Regions from separate parts of the Homo sapiens genome. Here region 2 is linked to region 1. Evidence: fine-mapped expression QTL. A gene starts in region 1. The other region holds a variant in brackets. All regions are shown on one strand. Distances are from middle to middle.

Region 1 (5,000 bases):
ATTCTCAACACACTCAGTAAAATTTTGACATAAATAAATTCCTCCTTGAGCTTGTTTTCTCACATTGTAGGTCTGGTGGCAAAAGACCCTTTAGCTCTGTCCCTCAGAAGAGGTACTTTTGGAAGGTACAGAATAAACAAGTAAATTACAGCCCATCTGTTACGTATTTACTAGAGATAGACGCATGATTTCAAGGAATATGATTCAGTAGGATAGATCCACACCCAGGCCATAGTGAGCTTGGTGGTCCGTAGTCCTGGATGCTTAAGTAGAATCCCACAGCAGATTCAATGTAAACCTCTAGTAGAAAAACAAACAACCGAATTGAAGTGATGTGACATTGACTTTACTCCAATTTTTGCTTTCTCAGCTTTTATGCTTATTAGGGATACTTATCTCTTTATCATTAATGTCCTCATCAAGGCACATTTAATGGTCTAGTGTTTAAATATGAAAATGTAAGTTTCTTGCTGTGCAAAATAATGTGAAACAATAATATAAAGACCTAAGGTACATTTATGTAAATCTCAATGATTTTTTGAGATAAAAAAGTTTCCAATTATAGCATATAACTTTTGACATTTTGAAAAATGACTACTAGCCTTTGCAAAGCACCAATATTGGATTCTGTCATTTCTGCCTCTCTCAAAAGTATAAACAGATTTTTCTCTTAAAAGGCTTATTGCAATAAACAAATTCCATTTAAGAGAATAACACCTGAAAGTTATTGCCATTGACTATATGTTTTAAATACTGTTCAAATAATCATATATACATTATTTCTAATCCTCATAAAATATTCTATATATAATTATTCTCATTTTACAGATGAATCCCTGGATTCATTAAATGAGAAATTAAATGATGTGCTCCAAACACACAAAATTAAAGGGTAGAACTGAGATTCAGACCCACTTATGTCTGACTGACTAGGCAAGCTGAGGGATGTGTATGTGTGTGTTTATGTGTGTGCGTCCCCTAATCTATTATGTAATTAGCATTTTTTTCAAAAGCAATTTCTTTTAGGTGAAACTCCTTTTAACACTCAATATTCATGGTGCTCTGACACACACATTCAAAACTTGCTCTTTCATTTTGGATGCAAGTTTGGAAAAAGACTTACTCCTAAAATAAATTTATTTGAGAAAATTCAGCTTAAAGATATGATAGTTATTACATAGGATGATTTCGTTGTCTCTACCTCCTCAAAGACTTTAAAATGGCTTTGGTCATGTGAAGTTAGTATCATCATTCAGAGCTCAAAAATCTCAAGATTCATTCTCCACCCCTTTAATAGTCCTGAGTATATTGTTTCTAAAGCACCACAGGGACTTTAGAGAGAAAATACGGGATTTTGAAATGATAATGTGAATTAAAACAAAAATTCCTTTTTTTCTTTCTTTTTCCCTCTCTCTTGCTTGCTCGCGCTCTCTCTTCTATTTTCTTTTTCTTTTTTTATGTTGTTCAATTAGCTAACACTCTATAAAAATGCCCTCAAGGTCTAGATCTGGAATGCTTAGGTACAAAAGGAAAAGGACATTCTACCAATGTTCCTGCTTGCCCTGAATTATCCTTTTGCCTGTTATCAGATTGTATCACTATCTCTACGCTATGATTAAAAATCATCACATGCTTATTTCTATCAAATTGCATGATACCATACAAATATACTACTCCCTTGTTTGCTGATACAGTGATCTTTTAAATATCAGAGGTTGCAAATTATTTACAATCTTTAGATTATAAAACATTTAGTACACTAGACATCTAGAATTTTGAAACACAATGCAACTTCATTAGCAAAATGAAAAATATTCATTTGTTCATGCTTATTATTTTTTGCAATCTGCTTATTCAAAATCCAAAACCATCTAATGTTGAAAGCCATTTACATTACAATCATATCTAATATCCTGCCCATATTATTGCTCCAGGAAATAAATGCATTTTAGGAGAATTTATTTATAGAGCATCTCTTTCAGAGGTGAGGCTCAGGGAAGCTCTGTGAGGCTGCAACAGTTTACCAGAAGGAGTCAGGCCATAAAGAAAGAAGTGCTGGCATTGGGTGGGGCTGAATAGTTTGCATCTTTTCCCACTGTTTCTCGCTGCTATCATTTCCATGAAAATCGAGGGTGTGGGAATGTATGCCACAGTAAGAAATCCTACAGACTGCTTTGTGTGCCCAAGAGCCCCCACCCCATAACATCTTTAGCTGTTTTTCTTATTATTGAAAGAGCTATCACACTAATGTCTGGGAAAACTGCAGAGGAGCTAAGCAAGCCAAAGAAATATCATGCTGGGGATGATATTTCTCCTGTCACAGCAGTCTTTTCTCCTTAGGAGGAATACACTTAGCATGAAACCAAAAGGCTTTTGCTGTCTAGCCATCTCAGGATCATCATAGAGCAAACGCATCTGGCCAAAAATCTGCCTTTTGCTTCACAATCCACGTTGCTTAACACTCTTCCTTTTACACACTAAAAATAAAACGACTCTCTCTACCCAGTTAACACCAGAAGAATCCATCAGTGGCCACGGTCCTCAGTAATCCACATGTGGAACACACCTTATCTCTATTCACTTCACCATGCTCCAGTCAGTGTATCCATTATGAGCCATGGCTCCTTTACTATTCTCAAAAAGCAGCAGTTTGCACCTGCCTCTTTAAAAAGCAAGGCTTGGCACTGTTATCGTCTACAGTTACTCATAATGCTCCACGGTTTCCATAGCCTTGCTGATATTACACACTCACACATGCACACACATACATATTTATACACAGACATTCCTAATTCCGGCGATTTACCTTCTTGGGTCTTTTTCTCCTCTGACTACTGCCGTTGAACTTCTCTCCACTGTCGCTTTTCTGAGCTGCATCTTCGTTCATCATTTTGAACAGTTTGGAAAGAAAATATCTCTGCCATCAAACCGTGCCGCCTGTACAGACCACTAGCGGGTATGCACTTACTGGAGGAAAGCAGGAGGAGGAGGAGGGGTGGGGAAGGGGCGCGCACTGGGAGGGTAAGGACGGTGACGTTGCCATGGCAGCAGCTGCCACAACTGTTTATCTGACTGCATTGTTAAATCTGATTCAACCAATTACCATCAGGAACCGGTTACAATGAAGAAAGCCTTGAAAAAAGAATGCCAGGGACTCGAATGATTTGGGGACTCTGCTGGTTGGTTTCTGACACACCCTTGATAGGATCAGCTCTCAACCTACACACAAAACCTGTACTTAATTTTCTTCCTACAGGTACTTCAACACGGAACAGATACAATGCATAATGAGAAAACTGTAACATTCTAGAATGTGTCTCTGAACCTGAAGAGGTACATTTAGCCAGTCAAGAGGCTACTTAAGGAAAAGGATTGGTTATTAATATCCTAAAGTGAATATAAGAAAGCTATGTTTTTCAGATGTCATTCACTTGGTTTAAAATATAATCTTTTGAAACTACACTCAAGGATGACTTCTGTCATAAAGCCTTGAGAACAGCTTCTCCAACCTCCAGATAACCCCAACCACTCTCTTCTCCTGTGCCTTCTCTTTCCAATGTAAGCTTCTGACAGTATACCTGTGACAATGTATTACACAACTGCCCAGATACCTAACCATCTTTTCTTGATAGGCCAAGAGCTTTAGATCAGGAGTGTGTGTGTGTGTGTGTGTGTGTGTGTGTGTGTGTGTGTGTGTGTGTCTGGGTAGGGGGAGAACTGAATTTCCCAGAACCAAGCATAATCCATGGCACATTAAAGGCAGTTAATCAAGGCTTGTTAAATATCTAAGACACTATCAGTAATAAAAACATAAAAAACTAATGGAGTTGCAATATTTTATAACTTATCTCAAAAGTTTTCTTAACCTAATTGTGTCTATTGACTGATGAATAAAACACAATCCCTCCTCTCAAGGGGTGTATACTATAAAGTTCTGGAATTCTTCTTGATTTTAAAAAAATGGGGCTTGTTTTTATAACAAGAAACCCAAATTCACTTATTGATTAAGGTGGCCATACTTGTATATTTAAAAATATTAACTTGTAGGCTGGGCGCAGTGGCTCATGCCTATAATCCCAGCATTTTGGGAGGCCAAGGCAGGTGGATCGCAAGGTGAGGAGCTCGACAACAGCCTGGCCAACGTGATGAAACCCTGCCTCTACTAAAAATACAAAAAAAAAAAAAAAATTAGCCAGGTGTGGGGAGGCTGGGGCAGGAGAATTGCTTGAACTCGGGAGGCGAAGGTTGCAGTGAGCCAAGATTGCCCCCAGTGCACTCCAGCCTCGGTGACAGAGCAAGACTCCGCCTTGAAAAAAAAAAAAAAAAAAAAAAAAAAAAAAAATATATATATATATATATATATATATATACACACTTGTAGATGCAACCAGAACCTAATATACTTTGTACAAATGCACATATGTATATTCTAAACACTTGCCCTTATTCCCAGACAATGAACGTAAAGTATAATACACAGCATACTTAGAAGTAAAAATAGAGTAAGGATTAAACCAACGAGATAGTGTATATAAATGCACTTTGAAATTGGAAGGTGCCTATGTAAATGTGTTGCTATTGCTAATCTTATTATTATTACAAATATAGACAGTTTTCAACTCTGAAAGTGTACCTTAAGAAACATATTTATGTGAAAATGACTGCAGCAGTTGAGAACTCACCTTTCCATCAGACAGAGCAACAAAAATTCACCTATTTCCCCATTGCTGTTAGGATTGCTCCTTCTCTCTGCCTTACCACCCTAAGGCCCCTCCACGTCATCATCTGGAGTCAACTCTGTTTTGCTGCCCCTCACTCCCTCCACCCTCCTCCTGTTTCAGCAGACCCATTCCACCAATGCCATTCTCTCACCATTGCTTCAGTGGTATCTTGGATCACACAGCCAGGCCAAAGAGGCAAAGGTTCTCTCTTTTTTTTTAAAACAAAACCCCAAAGAGCTTCTACAGAAGCCTCCAGAAGCCCAACTCCCACTGTGGTCA
Region 2 (5,000 bases), 86 kb before region 1:
TAATCCTATACTCAAATATTTTAATCTATTGATTTCAAAATATTTTAAAATCCTACTTTCCCTACAAAATACACACATATGACATTTGAAATTAAGCAAGAGACATAGACATTGAAAATACACTTCCAGGCAGCAGCCAGGCATTCATCAGTCAATAACAAACCTAAGTTCAAACTAAATATCTGATGCTGGTTCAACTAGAGCATATATGAGTATTTATTTTAGAATTACCAATTAAACCTGATTTATTATGAGGATAACTGATTTTCTTGTACTGTGTTGAAACACAGAATCAACTAGGCTCTTCCAGTTGTGTTGCACCGACATCAGAGAGTTACTGTAAAATATGGTATTATGATTACTTTAAACAGCATGATGAGTGTGCATTTAGTCAAGAACAGTTGCACTACAATTATGGAATGATACATAGACTAAATTCATTTTATTTCAAAGACGGAAAACTTAGAGCTCCAAAAAGAACTTGAATTTCATTGTCCAACTTCATTCACTTGGGTTTTATTTCAGGATCTCTTTAGAGTAAATGTATCTATACACTTCAAGGTATAAAGAATTATTTATGATCCTTCATATATTATTCATACTGAAATAAATACCCTGAATATGTATCATTTGTTCTCTCTGGAAAATGGGAGAATTATTTTCAAGTTTTCAATCTTGCCCTACTTTTGTTTGGAAAACAAAATCACTTTATAAGCAATCAAAAACTCCAGAAATACAGTCATAAATATATTAGAAAGTCAATGCTGTTATTTCATTCTTCGAAAATTATGTTAATGTGGTCTTATGTCCTCTAAGCTCCATTGCTATTAGCTACATGCTGCTAGAAATAAATTCTAGATGGACACTATCAGCTGTCATTTTGAACTTTGGTGCTGTCATCTGTATAATGATAAGCTATAGTAAATACACTCATGCTGATGTTTATATGTGTTTAATCTTTACAGTCAGAAGTTTATAAATCACACTTAGGTCCACATAAAATTAATCTTCTCTACCAGAAGATAAGAAAGGAAGGAAGAAGGAAGAAGGAAAGAGGAAGAAGAAAGGAATATAAATATGATTTAAAATGCAGATATATCTCTAAAAATTAAGGGTTTTCTTCTTTAAGAGCAATTATTAAGTAATATTTTTAAGAAAAAATGTTTTCCTTTTCTACCAGTTCCTTAGTATTTAAACATGCTCAGTGCTTTCCTAAGCCAATGCCCTACTCAAACCTGCTCCTGGCCCAGTCTTCTCTGGCTCAGTGACCAGCAGCCCTATACACCTTGCTGCCCAAGCTGACAATCTTGAAGTGTTTGACATTACCTTTCCCATACATCCAGTCCTGCAGAGTCTACTTTTTTCCATCCCTTTGCCACTATTTTAGGTCAGTGATTTATTTCTTGACTGAATTACTGTAACTGTCTCCTAAAGAGTTTACTGGTTCTAGCTTTGCTCTGTTTCAATCCATTTGTCATGCGCCTTAGCCAAGGAGATCTTTCCAAAGCTCAGACCTATTCAAGGAACTCCCTATAATCTTCAAGATAAAAGCGAAAATCTAGGTCGGGCGCAGTGGCTCACACATGTAATCCCAGCACTTTGGGGGGCCAAGGTGGGTGGATCACCTGAGGTCAGGAGTTTGAGACCAGCCTGGCCAGCCTGTAATCTCAGCACTTTGAGAGGCCAAGGCGGGTGGATCACTTGAGGTCAGGAGTTTGAGACCAGCTTGGCCAGCATGGTGAAACCTCGTCTCTACTAAAAATACAAAAATTAGCTAGGCCTGGTGGCACGCACCTGTAATTCCAGCTACTCAAGAGGCTGAGGCAGGAGAATCCACTTGAACCCGGGAGGCGGAGGTTGCAGTAAGCCGAGATTGTACTGCTGCACTCCAGCCTGGGTGACAGAATGAAACTGTCTCAAAAAAAAAAAAAAA[G/AG]CCAAAATCCTTAATAATGTGGTATGGACTCCTATCTGAGCTGATCTTTCTTTCCCCAGTTTTTGCTTTTTGTTTATTTGTTTGTTTTGAGACAGGGTCTGGCTCTGCCACCCAAGCTGGAGTGCAGTGGCGCTCATTGCAACCTCCACCTCCCCCGGCTCAAGCGATTCTACCACCTCAGCCTCCCAAGTAGCTGGGATTACAAGCATGCACCACCACACCTGGCTAATTTTTGTATTTTTGGTAGAGACAGGGTTTCGCCATGTTGCCCAGGATGGTCTCAAACTCCTGGACTCAAGCATTCCTCCCAAGTGCTGGGATTACAGGTGCGAACCACCATTCCTAGCGTATTCCAGTTTTCATAATCTCATCTTTGCATTCTCTCCCTTGAAATTTCCTCTGGACTTTTATTAATAACTATTCCCCTGGATCACCTCCCTCCCTCTCAGCATCTGCAAGACTCCTCTTGGAAGCCCTGCCTGGCCAACAAGATTAGGAGCCTGCTGTGGACACAGAGCCATCAGGATGATTGTTACCCTGTATTTTAATTGTCTTTTTATGAACAGACACTGTATTTTATTTGTCTGTTTGTCCCTAGTACTCCTGATAGTGCCCCTATATAGCAGGCACTCATAATTGATTACTGACTAAATGAGCAATAAAAAAAACTTCCTTCACATACTTAAAATATGAGTGGTTTATGCAAACATTTATTTCATTCTTCTCACAAATATTCATTCAGCACTATACGCAGGCCCAAACACAACATTTAAATAAAAAGAGACAAATGCATATTATTACTGATGTACTCACAGAAATGCTTTAATGAATCTCCGAGAATAGCAATCTGCAGTCATTTATCCAATTACCATTAAAAATGATTTTGTTTTGGTCACATTACTATTCTGTCAGTTCTTGTATAATTATATTTTCAGATGTTTGATTTTGGTCCAGGCACCAAATCTGTTGGTGGCCATCTGAACATGAGGAGGAATGAAAAGAACAAAAATGCCAATGGCCACAAAAGCATCAGTAGCCATGAACCACAAGATGGTTCATGAGGTAAGAGTAAGACTGTTGATCACATCATGGATATTTCAGGATATCCATCAGTGTCACTATAAACATATGGAGAGTAATCATTGCTAATGTCAGGGAAATATAATTATTGTTCTCTAGAGGTCCAGAAGGATTACTCTTATCATAAATGTCTACACACACACACACACACACACACAGAGAGACACACACAGCTCTATGGTTTGGCCATCATTTGCCTCTACGGTATTACATGTAGTGAAAAGCTCCTTTCATTCCACTCTTTCCACCTGTAGAGCTTCTCTGCATTCTTTCATTATTGGTTCCCCTTTTCCAGTGATGGATCCATCACTAGATCCCTGCCTGACCGTGATATCTAATCCTCCTTACAGCTGTCACCTCTGTGTGGCCATCACTTTACTTTAATTACCTTTAATCTATGACACTCACTTGCTGCTCCTCTCTCCACAGTTTTTCTTTATTTTTCATAGGTATCTTTACTTCTAACATGTCTTACCTTCAAAGCAAATGCTAACCTTTTAGAGACAACAGCCACCAATAATATGGCATCTTGTAAATGCAAAAACACCCCACAGTTATCAGCCTACAATAAATACTCACAGAAAGATGTGCATTTTCTACTTGTGTTCATGACCAACAACCCATTCAAATACCCAGGTGGAGCTCTCCATTCTTTGCCACTGTGAAACATCAGTAATTCAGATATATGCTAACTGTAGTAATTGTGCATCCTGAAGAAATGGACACCATAAAACTTTAGTCATGCCACTTCTAATGTCTAAAATTAGAATTTCCAATTTTTAAGTTTCTATGGTCATAAAATTGATCTGACTTCATATTTTGATAACTTAAACTACATGGCAAAGTTCTAATCTGATTTTGTCAAGTTTTACTAAATACAAAGGTCATATAATATTTAGTAGACCAAGAAGTATGTCATGACAGTTTAATTTTGTCCTAAATTCTTCCTAAAAAAAGAATTATCAATAAAAGAGACTATGGCTTTCATTAACCACTGACATTTTAAAATGTCAATTTTACTGAAATATGCCTTTTCTATTTTAATAACATTTGATTTTAGCTGACCTGGAGATCAAGTGTTAAAAAAACATCTCTGATAAGGTAGAAGGTAGTTTTTTTGTCCTTGCTCTGGAACAAGGAGAACATAGTTCAGTTTATTATTATTCCATACTAAGATAAGGGGGGATCAATTTTCCTATGGTATAAAGATGTCTTCCAGATCCTTGGCCTCATTGTTCAGCAGAGCACAAGAGGCATTCAGAGATCTCTATGCACTCCCCAACTTTTCGTATTTGTTGTGAGTAATACCTCAGTAGCCCTCCTTTTTCATTTTACTTTGAATTTTGTCCTTGGGTTCTCTCTGTGGTTGCAGTGAGAAAAAAAAAAAAAAAAAAAAAAAAGACAACTTTCAGGAAATTTTAGAGCTACTTCCATTGCAGTTTAATAAACTAACTCCAAACTAGCCAGTCATATGATACTTTGGGCCAGAACCTACCTCACCTCTCTTCTACTCTAACAAGAGATTCCTGTTGATGACATCCAAGACTTAGAAATCGGCCTTGATGCTATTTTGATCATTGGAGGTGCTAGTAGTATAGATGGTTTCAGCACTTGATAACTCTAGCTCTTCTGTCCTTCTTCCTGTAATCTTATTATTAGGGACCTTGCTGTAGTGTAAATCACATCATAATTCTTCAGAGACTCCCCCTGCTATTTTGTTTGTCTGTTCCTTGAAAGGTTAGAAATATTTTTGTGTAACTTGGTGATATATATTTTTCATCCCAGCTACTCTTCTTTATAGCATTATAAGGTCAGTTGGAGAAGCACAGATTCAAGTCATCTGGGGTCTTACCTCTTCCTTCCTTCTTAAACCTCACTTTTTCCATTGGACAAAAGGGAGTTATAATCATTTCTACCTCATGGTGTTGCTGAAAAGATTAAATAAGTCAGTGCATCTTAAGTACTTAGGACAGTGTCCAGTATATAG

Alleles and levels. Alleles are on the strand shown, and positions count from the first base shown. SD is a standard deviation of normalised expression in the study named.
In carriers of allele G in region 2, the expression in pancreatic islets of the gene that starts at base 2,966 in region 1 tends to be higher than with AG alone (moderate effect, 0.47 SD a copy in PISA).

What was found. PIP is the estimated chance that this variant, and not a neighbour inherited with it, causes the effect.
Region 2: its variant is the best candidate, but not a certain one, in a credible set for the expression of ANK2 in pancreatic islets (PISA, PIP 0.71).

Annotation. Positions count from the first base shown.
Region 1 is chr4:113,047,619-113,052,618 of GRCh38, reverse strand. It overlaps ANK2 (ankyrin 2), which reads right to left and starts at 2,966. Exons shown (of 46, transcript NM_001148.6): 1 at 2,807-2,966. The coding sequence starts at 2,890.
Region 2 is chr4:113,133,695-113,138,694 of GRCh38, reverse strand. All of the region lies in intron 1 of ANK2 (ankyrin 2), which reads right to left. Among named protein-coding and RNA genes, the nearest start is that of MIR8082, 16 kb to the left of the region's middle. The variant G/AG (reference allele first, on the strand shown) is at 1,934.